Linked DNA regions of Homo sapiens. The protein of the gene in region 3 purifies or fractionates together with the protein of the main gene of each other region. This does not show direct contact. Each region holds a gene or a part of one and is shown on either strand. Other genes may lie near its edges.

What was found.
Region 1: the proteins of SLF2 (region 3) and ITGA1 purify together in Homo sapiens (affinity purification with mass spectrometry; one large-scale study listed by BioGRID and IntAct). This does not show direct contact.
Region 2: the proteins of SLF2 (region 3) and GCFC2 purify together in Homo sapiens (affinity purification with mass spectrometry; one large-scale study listed by BioGRID and IntAct). This does not show direct contact.

The regions. Positions count from the first base shown.
Region 1 is NC_000005.10:52,955,325-52,958,982, reverse strand, and holds part of ITGA1 (integrin alpha-1 precursor), read right to left. Parts: 3' UTR 1-3,658. UniProt on the Homo sapiens protein: Integrin alpha-1/beta-1 is a receptor for laminin and collagen. It recognizes the proline-hydroxylated sequence G-F-P-G-E-R in collagen. Involved in anchorage-dependent, negative regulation of EGF-stimulated cell growth.
Region 2 is NC_000002.12:75,669,304-75,672,961, forward strand, and holds part of GCFC2 (intron Large complex component GCFC2), read right to left. Parts: exon of another isoform or gene 3,013-3,658; intron 2,714-3,012; coding exon 2,647-2,713; intron 982-2,646; coding exon 835-981; intron 1-834.
Region 3 is NC_000010.11:100,922,950-100,926,607, reverse strand, and holds part of SLF2 (SMC5-SMC6 complex localization factor protein 2), read right to left. Parts: intron 2,634-3,658; coding exon 1,636-2,633; intron 660-1,635; coding exon 589-659; intron 1-588. UniProt on the Homo sapiens protein: Plays a role in the DNA damage response (DDR) pathway by regulating postreplication repair of UV-damaged DNA and genomic stability maintenance.

The DNA.
Region 1 (3,658 bases), on a different chromosome or scaffold from region 3:
TCTTTACAAAATGGGTTTAAATGAAGCATATAATAAATTACAAGAGTCAACAAAGGTTATGCTTCTTTGTTCCTGAATGCAATCGAAACATTTTCTTCTAATGAGTTTATCCAATTAAAGTCTTGTAGAAATGCACATTCCCTTAAGTTAGTCATTTTAGTGAGGCAAAAAAAAATGAGCAATGAAATATAACTTTATGTTAGATCAGGCAGAACAGTTCATTGGAGTGATGGATATTTCAGGGCAGTAGTTCTTGTATGCAATATTTTTCTTGCTAATAAAATGAATACAATTCTTTACACTGTCCATTAACAATTTTACAGTCTCACAGTAGTAATACGCAGTATACCATTCTCCTTACAGGCCAATTTTTCCTAATAAGGAATGCAGAGCATCTCTTGCATCCTGAGTAATGGCAGGCAATATCAGAAATAAAACAGTAAATGTTGAGTTCTCTTGTATAAAACGGTTCTAGAGTGAAGAGGGTCTGAGATGTTGCTGCATTAAGTGATTGTTTTTACTTGAATCCAAAGTGTATTAAACTCCAGGAAATTAGCCTTGGTTAATCTACACATAAGAATATAGTTTTGCTCTTATTTAATCAACAATTTACTTATGCAAAGTACATGTGTTAGTATTGTGGGCAGGGTATATGGGGTCTGAGTGAGCTTAAAGTATTTTGAGGAGTAAGGATGTAGACATAAAAGAGAAATAGTTTCATCATCTTCCACTCCCTCACCCCCATTTTTTTTCCTGTCTCTCAAGGTGCAAAATGCTGCAGCAGCATGACGGAAAGATTGTCACCTGGCACTGGTCCTAAGTGTGGTGGTCCCCTTCTGCACAGCTATTCTGTAGAGGAAAGGACAATTATGTTGGCTCACTGCTTCCCAGTAATCTCTCTCTACCTCTTAAAAAACAAGGGTGAGGATAAGTAATGCAATAGAGAGATTTTTCAAGACCACAACTGGCTTTCATTGTGGTGTCATTTGGAAGATTTGTTTTTAAAATTTTGTCCCCAATCTAAAGGCACAGATCAAACTGAAATAAAAAGATTTAAACATTGGATCTCAGTCTATTGCAAAAGAGTTCCTACAATTCCATACTTCATCTTTTTTTCATAAAGATATTACCTGAAATATGCTAAAGCCAAATGTAAACATAGTTATGAGTGTCACAGGTCCTTAGTTGATTGCCAAGATTTCCCTGGTGTGTCAGATAATTAAAGGATCTCTGAGTGTCTGCTCACCAACAAAGATAACATGTCACCACCCAAGGCCCTGCTATGGGCACAAGGCAGAGAATGGCCTTGCTGAGGAAACCCCAAATCATCCCCACCACGCAGCTGAGAAGAGAAGCCAACTGGAAGGCAGAAGGAAAAGAGATCCTGCAAATTGGCTCTGGCTCCTACTGCCCAGTCTCATAGCACTGAAATTCTCCAGCCTGTGGGAGGAGGAAAATGCTAGGGAGTCTTGTATAAAGTTCTAAATTCATCAGCTACTGGGGAAAGCTTTTGCTATATGTAAAGAGAGAGAAAAAAATACCGATCTCAAAGCAAGGAGTCCAAAGTTAGGAGTGATGAGTCACCCTTACATATTTTTTGGTATGGTAAAATTTCAATGAGAAGCATTCCCGGGTGCCTGATGTAAGGTGCAGATCTTGGGGCATAAGAACAGTAGTGGGTTCAAGGGTTAAGCATCGGCCCTTTATAATGGGAAAAGGATCCATTCCCATTAGTTAGGAACTGGACTTCCTGGGTGGAGATGCTGTAGGGGACAACAGGGCTGGGGCTTAAGAGACTCCAGATGCTACTTCACATTTTCCTCAAGGTTAATGGTTAAAGGCTGTTACTTTGAATTTCTAAATTTAAGATTAAATTTTAACCTGAGGATCAAAGATGCTGATTTGTTCGTCCGATTACAATGTTACAGTTTAACCCTAATTTTCTTATTCCACCTAAGAGTGTTGTTCAACAGTGCTTCCACTTAGAAACAGCAGCATTTAGCCTTTTGTAATGTGCCTTGGTTTCCTTTCACTGCAGTTAACAATTAATACCTGGTGTTGGTTTCAGAAATTCTGTGTGAGAATGGTTTAGAATCAGCAGTCTGATTGGCAGCCAGAGGACTCACCTGGAAGCTGTTTGCATTTAAAAGCCTGCTATTTAGAATTAAACTGTACATTTTAGTTATAAATACAGCATCCATGTGAGGACTTTAAGGCCCTTCTTTTCATTTTTTAGATGATTTCCATGGGTGAGGTTGGCGATTGTTGGGTGCATTTGGAGGGCCATTGAAGAGCTAAATCCTGCTAGCTTCCCCAGGCGTAGTTGCTGATAGTGTCCCATAACAGTTTGTAAATGTCTTAAAGATGTTCCAGCTTGGAAGTATATTCTGCTTTGTCCCTCCTCCATTATACTATGTGAACCCTTTAGAACACCGCTGCAGAACAAAACACTGAAATCCTGTATAAATGATTGAGTCACTGAAGCTGGTACTCAGAGCAAATGTTTTATTAACAGATTTTTCTCCAGTAGTCTTGAAAATCTCCCCTGGGGGAGAAAACTGGCAAAAGGGGGCCTGAGGGTTGTTGGAAGAAATGAAAAGTACATAGGATGCTATTTTGAAAAACTGATTTGTCAGAAGCCACTTTATTTTAACAATAATGTGACTGCACCTGGCACATGAGACAGGCTCTGGGCCTGTTTCTCAATGTTGTGAAAAGCAGGACAGTCAGTTCCCATGGAGTAGATTACAGCGTGTTGGACAAGGACATTCCCCCGCGTGAAGGCACACTCCATGGAGCCAGTGGGGCCACCATTCACGGTGTGCAAGCTGTGGCCTTGGAGAGAACATGGGCAGGGATTCCCCAGCCTCTACTATACCCCAGCTTTACTCCATTGATCACAACAATGGCACTTTTTTCTTTTGGTGCAAATATTTCCATTTTCCAATTGAGCCTAGACTTTGATTTTATAAAAGGAAAAGAGAATATCTATATATGTAAATATCTGCATGTGAGTGTATGTGTATATATATATATATATATATGTATATACGCATTTATAGATAAAATTATTATGGTTGCAGAAGCATCAAATTTTGTAAAAATATCTGTTTACTACAAGCCTCTTTTCAAGCACACTTATGACACAGAAAATATTCAGAGATTAAATTGCCCATGAATCTAGTGCTCAGAGGAAAATAGTTTGACAAATTGGACCAATGAAGTTGAAATTGGATCATAGAAGTTCAAAATATTTACAAAGTGTCATCTTTTGTAATGTGTATCACAGGACTTTGAATTCCTTGGGAAAATGAGACAATTTTTTTGTGGCTTGTGTAGGTCTGATTTTCACTGTGGATCACCCTTTATATTTTCCTTCTTTCAACTCCTTCCTTCTCCTGCAAGTTCATAACATTTTATTAATATCAAAGGAAGGTTATAATTTTAGAAATCAAAATTAAAGAATGGGTGCTGTGTAGCATTATGTTTACTGGGCTTGATATAATCAGTACTTTTGGCATAATTTAAAACATGATTATACTGTGTGTCATTGGATATGTATATAGACACAACATGTTCTCTATCAATATCTATCTATCTATCTATCTATCTATCTATCTATCTATCTATCTATCTGTCTATCGTGTAATCTGTCTCA
Region 2 (3,658 bases), on a different chromosome or scaffold from region 3:
AACACAAACAGCAGTAGAAAGAATAGTATAATGAGCCCAATGAACACATTCCCCAGTTTTAATAATAATCAATTAATCCCAATACCTTTTTGATCCACTAAAGTTTTATATTTTTTCAAATTTATTACTTTTTCTCATAATTTCTTCTTTTGCCTTTAAGTTTAGAAGGAACTCCCTCACTCTCAAATATAGTCATTTACCATCTTAGTATATTTTATAGTTTCATTTTTACATTTTTTAAAATTTTACCTGAAATTTTTTTGGTGTATAGTGAGAGGTGAGGACTTAACATTCTTTTTGTAAACAGCCAGCCATCTAGCATCATTTATTAAGTAATTTTTCCTTTCCCTACTGGGGATATTTCAAACCAGTATACTCTTTCTTAAATACAGAAGAGCGGCTCTGCATTTTAGCTTTGTTAAATTCATTTGTCAATTTTTTTTTTTGAGATGGAGTTTTGCTCTTGTCACCCAGGCTGGAGTGCAATGGCGGCTCACTGCAACGTCTGCCTCCTGGGTTCAGGCGATTCTTCTGCCTCAGCCACCCAAGTAGCTGGGATTACAGGTGTTAGCCACCGCACCTGGCTAATTTTTGTATCTTTAGTAGAGACGGAGTTTCACCATGTTGGTGAGGCTGGTCTCAAACTCCTGACCTCACGCAATCCGCCTGCCTCAGCCTCCCAAAGTGCTGGGATTACAGGCATGAGCCACTGTGCCTGGCCCATTTGTCTATATATGAGTACCACACATTTAATTATTTTGCTAAATAATAGATTTTAATAGCTAAATTTTTTAGAAATGATAAAATTAGAATCAGTCTTCCTTCACAACTTACCTGGTTGCACTTTTTAACCACATCTGGCCCAGGTGTGGCATTGAGAAGTGCTATAATAAGGTAACGATTTAGCAGCTTCCCTAGTCCTAGTTCTTGCAAGGTGTCATCTGTAAGGAGTCCATTCCAAAGAAGAATATTGCGGAAGAGCTAAAATAAAATATCAAGTAAATATGTACCTTTTCTCCAAAGAGAAACTGTAATAGTCTCTAACAAACATGAAGAGTTGGTCAAACTAAAATTCTCACTACAATTAGCCCTGTTGGAACTGTCAATTTTAGAATACAATATCTCTGAATAAATACTTGATTCTTTCCAAACTCCATGTATTTGCTCATCTTATTTTCATTTTCTAGGATAACCATCCCCAAATCTATCTCAAATAACTTCACTAGAGCCTTTCCAGATCAATAATCTTCCTTCCCAATCCATTTTCTCTCAAAGCCGGGGGCCATCAAGTATAAGACCACAGGACCACGTGATTCATAAAGAACTACTGTCAAAACTAGGGCCGCCATTACCAACATGTGACCTTGAGAAGGCAATCAACGCTGAGAGCTTCATTCCTCTGATACATAAAGATTTATAATCACCTTTGAGTTTGAAGATAACTTGGATTAAGTAACCATAATAAATTCTAATAAAATATTGGTTGTCCTTTCCCTCTACTAAATTCAGATCTTTCTGTGAATTTTAAGGTGTTTCTTTTTTTGCAGTACTATATTCATTACTCTGAGTGCTGAACTACATGCTGTTTTACTAAAATGTAATGCTTTTTCACATTTTATCTCATTGTTGATGTTGTTCCCTCTTCCCAGAAAGCCTTTTCCCTGATTCAACCACATGACAAATATTAATTCACACTATTAAAACTACTCTTGGTGAGGTCACCTATATCCTTCTAATTGTCAAATCCAATAAACAGTGTTTCAGTCTTTCTCTTAATACTCTTTGGTGGCATTTAACACTCTTTTCTTCATTCTTGAAAATCTTTCATTTAGCTTCCTTGAGGCCATTCTCTTGTGATCATCCTAAGGCTCATAATTGATTCTACAGATTCCCTGAAGCCTCCATGTTCTCCTCTTCTGTTAGTATTTCCCGAGGTTCTGTCCTTGGCCTACTTCTCATGCTTCATCCAGTCTCCTTACGCAGCTTGCCATTCATGACCATGGCTCCAAATATTACCTACAGGTAGTGGACTCCCAAATCTCTAGCTCAGATCTGTCTCCTGAAATTCAGACTTATGTATCCAACCACCTCCTAGACCTCTGTATCTCTATTTGTCCCACATATATCTTCATTATGTACAAAATAGATCTTATCTTCCCTTGATCAGTTATCGACTCCTTTCAATGCTTCCTCCCAAACATTGTTTGAACCTTCTTCTCCTTCTCATCCCTACTGCCACTGACTTAGCAATAATTTTAAGGCCAGGGGTTAGCCAACTATATAGCTTGTGGGTTAAATCCATCCTGTTGCCTGTTTTTATAGGGTCCGTGAGCTAAGAATGGTTTTAACACTTTTCAAGGACGTTTTAAAACTGTCTTTAAACAAAATATTTTGTACCATGAGGAAATTATATGACATTCAAATTTCAGTGTTCATAAGTTTTATTCAAACAGCCATGTTCATTTGTTTATGTACTATGACTGTTTTTGTGCTACAGCGGCAGAGTTGAGTAATTCGACAGAGACCATGTGACCACAAAGCCTAAAATACTATCTAATTCTTATAGAAGAAGTTTGTTGTTCTTTGTTCTATAGTAAACAGGATTTTTACAAAAATTGCCTTTTCATTTTTGCAGTTTTTGCTCACCTTTAGGCCTGACCAGAACTGTCTTTCTTGGAACTTTGAATGAGGTGATGTTTTGTTTTCTACAGCACTAATTAGAAACAAACGAAAGAGAAGAGAAAATGCAAAGAACTATTAGTCTTTCAGAACCAGAGTTTAAGATCAGACTTTCTTTTAAACCAACCAAACTAAGCCTTAATGGAATATAAATAGAGATTGTTTATTTTATTTTATAAATAAAATATATATTTATTTATAAAATATATATTTATATATTTATAAATATGTTTATAAAATATATATTTATATATTTATAAATATGTTTATAAAATATATATTTATATATTTATAAATATGTTTATAAAATATATATTTATATATTTATAAATATGTTTATAAAATATATATTTATATATTTATAAATATGTTTATAAAATATATATTTATAAACAAATAACTAATATATCACATTCATACATCTGAACCATGTGAATGCATTATCTAAAACATTATAAACAAAGTTTACCAAGGCAGAATTTTTACATGTAGACATCTCATGATTCAAAATGAATCAGAAAGCTTTGAGGTTCCTTTCTTCCCCCTCCATAAAGCTCCTCCATCCTGTCACTACTCACTGGATTGCTACAGTTCATGCATCATTATAACTGATGGCTTCTTAGCAAAGTTATGATCATACATCAAATACTCGTTTTATAATTTAAAGTGACTGCAGAATTTACAGGTGCAGTTTCTCGTTCCTCAGCATTGTGCTTCCTCTGTGCTAGGCCCTGTTGTGTTCTGAGCATTCTCTTCATCTCCCTAATATCCTGTGAGGTAGGCACTAATTTTATCCTTATTTTATAGATGAGAAAACAAGTGCATAAAAATACCTACTAACAGTGGACGTGTGCTCTTTACCACTCTATATCACCTGCTATGTTCCTAGGATATATGTAAAACCAAAACCAAAACCAACCAAACAAAATTCATCTAAGCGCCAAGATAAAGCACGGCTTTATGTAAGTCACTGAGAAAT
Region 3 (3,658 bases):
TTGAGACGGGGTCTTATTCTGTCACCCAGATTGGAGTGCAGTGGCTCAATCACAGCTCACTACAGCCTTGACCTCCTTGGGCTCAGGTGATCCTCCCAACCTCAGCCTGTTGAGTAGCTGGGACCATAGGTATGTGGCACCATGACTGGCTAATTTTTGTATTTTTTGTAGAGATGGGGTTTCACCATGTTGCCCAGGCTAGTCTCAAACTCCTGGGCTCAAGAGATTTGCCTGCTTTGGCCTCCTAAAGTACTGGATTACAGGCATGAGCCATCACACCTGGCCTCTTTTTTTCATTTGAGACTGGGTCTCACTCTGCCACCCAGGCTGCAGTGAAGTGGCGCCATCACGACTCACCGCAGCCTTGAACTCCTGGGCTCAAGTAATCTTGCCTGGGTCTCCCAAAGTGTTGTGATTACAGGCATGAGCCACTGCGTCCGGCCAACATATCTTATTCTAACACAGTTGACAACAGAGTCCAAAATGCACGCTAATTTCTCATGATTTTTTAAAAAAGGTAAATTAAAAGTAAGCCACACAAACAAGCAAAATGTTAAATTTAGCAAATTAATCTTTATGCTAACAAACCTTTGTGTGTCTTCCATTTCCTTCACTAGACGTTCTAAGGTATTTGTGTAAGTTCCAGGATGAACATGTCCCTAAAACAAGAACATTTAGAAATACTTTACCACATGTCTTAGTAGAAGAACTGGGATGTTTTAAGTAATTAAGGGTACGAAAGACTATTTTCTATTTCAATAATCTGGGCCAGGATAACACCTTTCTTAAAGGATAATTTTCACCATCATGCTTTAAATCTAGTATTTTGCACTGCAGACAATTTGATTTTACTACCTATTAGGAAAGGCAGTACTTATAAAACCCTGCTAACTTTGAGATGTGACTGCAAACACTCAAGGACTCTGTGGCTACCCTGTCTTTACTTTTAAATTCTATTTTAGTAGAATCAAACTACTAATTTTTAGGTGTTACCATGGAATATTAACACCTTCCCCACCAAATTTTACAGACATCTTAGAATTTAATTCAGCTTATTCCCAAGATAGAATGAAGCACTTTATAAATAAAATTGCACACCACAATCAACAACATTTCTACACTCTACCTTCATTTACAGATGTGGTCTCCAAAGCAGGGGGTGTGCAAGGTGATCCATTGGGGTGCAGGAAGAAAATAATAGAACTTCTATTTATATGGAACTTCTATAGAGACTCCAGTAGAACTTAGTCTATAGTAACTTCTACGTCACTTCTACAGGAAAATACTTATTTTTCTCTTCTTCTTCCTTTTAAATTCTGTTTTTGCATATGCTTTAGAAAGTACACAGTATTACAGTGGTACATATATATAATCTAAAGGTATACATATATGTTGGGGTACATGCTCAAAAATTGTTAAGTGTGTGTGATCAAAAGAGTTTGGAGACCACTGACTTACAGTAATAAAACTAAAGATATGGAAACTCATTTACCAAACAAGAATTATTCCATTTTCAGTACAAATATGAGTTATAATAAATACTAAATTTTAAAGTAAGTTCCGATAATCCACCCCTTTCACTAATTAATCATCTTTCCCTCTTCAAGTAAAGATAAACGTCACAGAACTACTTACTGTATAGTCTGATGACTGAGATCTAAGCCCCTTGGAAAGAGCAGGAGGCTTTCCTGTAGCTGCAGGAGTCTGATTGAAGTTCAAAGCCATTATTTCTTCCAGTGACTTTAATGTTTCCTCTTCCTCATCACTGTCTAGGTTGTAACCTAAACTTTCTTCATCACTATCAAAATCACCCCTTAGTTTTCTTTTCAGTGCACTGCTACCTGCATTGGAATTTCCTGAACTCTCTCCTTCTGAAGGGGCTTTATCTGAAGGTGCTGCAGGGCTTGGGATACATGGCACAACTTCCAAAGCAGCAGGGGGAGACTTTGTAGGAGTGCCATATTCTGAGCGCAAAGGTCCCCCAGAAATTTTCCCTGAAGATACATTAGAATCGGCCTTATTAGTCTTTGCTTTGTGTTCCTTGTGTTTGGTGGATTCTGTAGAATGCCCAGAACATTCTTTAGATGAGGAACGCTCTTTATCTTTTTTAGAAACTGGAAGAGCACAATTTTTAGCATTTAATGGTACTAGAGAGGAACCAGCACTTGGAACACGGGAAAGTAAAGGTAGTTTTGTCTCCTTCTCCTTTGTCGTGGAGCTAGCGGTTTTATTTTTCTGAAGGTTGCTAGCTTTTTTAATTGCAGACTTTTCCTGAGATAAAGGTAAGTGGGGTTTCTGCATCTTAGTCTCCTTGGTACCTGCCACTTGGATTTGGTCACTATTCCTGGTAGAATGGTGGCCAGAATTGCCAGAATTTGAAGGTGCCAAGCCTGCAGAAGAGCCATCAGTTTCATCACTCGGTTCCTTGGATATATCTTCTAAGCGCAACACATCACCAGGTGTCTTCAGTGCAATATGTTTTATAAATTTTTCTTTCTGATGTGGTCCATCAGGACGCTTCTCAAGGAAGGACTCTCTTGCTTTTGGTATCATAGATTCTCTTGTGCTTTTCAGATCTGAGTCCACAGAGTTCCTTTTTCTTTTTTCAGGGAATTTATTCTGCTTAGAGCCTGCTAAAATTTAATTTTTGTTAGATTAGTGAAAAATATACTTTCCAACTTTAGTAAAGTTTATTCAGTGTCTAGAACACCCTAATGAAAGGTTTAAAATTCTAAGTATTAAGGCTGAGATTAGTCACCATATATGGAATGCAGAAAAAGAGTTACTTATCAACTGGATAAATACTGGTGTCCAAGAAATTTAAAGCTAATGACAAATGCTCATTTTCATTCCAAAGCTATGAAAAGTTTACCACCTTAACAGAATTAAAGATGCCACTCCCTAAAACAAACAACTGCATATTTGTACCAAGTTAAGGATGCCATAGGTACTTCTGGAAATTCTTTTAGACCTAGGACTACCTGGTTGCAGAAATGTAACACTTCTACATTTAAATGTATAGTACCTTAAAACACGTATAGGATAAACACTTGAAGGCAGATAAATGTTAATTTCTCATTAAAAAAAAAAAAATCACGCTGTGTCCCAATGCAGTATGACTGGTGTACTTACAAAAGGTGTCTTTGTCTTTGGAGACAAAGACAGACATGCACAGAGGGAATACAAGGTGAAAATACACAAGGAAAAGATGCTATGTGACTGGAGTGATGCAGCTGTAAGTCAAGAAATGCCAAAGATTGCAGGCAAACACCAGAAGCTAGACGAGGTAAGGAAGTATTCTCCCCTAGAGTTGCCAGAGACATTACGGCCCTATTGATATCCTGATTTCAAACTTCTAGCTTCCAGAACTGTGAAACAATAATTCCTGTTGTTTTAAGCCACCCTGGTTTTGGCACTTTGTTATGGCAGCCCTAGGAAACTAATATAAGCTATATTTATTATAGCCCCATCCAGAAGTACTTTAATAACCACATACATTTGAATGAACCAGTTTTTAAAAATTCATATTGTGGGCTGAGTGCGGTGGGTCACACCTGTAATCCCAGCATTTTGGGAGGCCGGAGTGGGCAGATCACTTGAGGTCAGGAGTTTGAGACCAGCCTGGCCAACATGGTGAAACCCTGTCTCTACTGAAAAT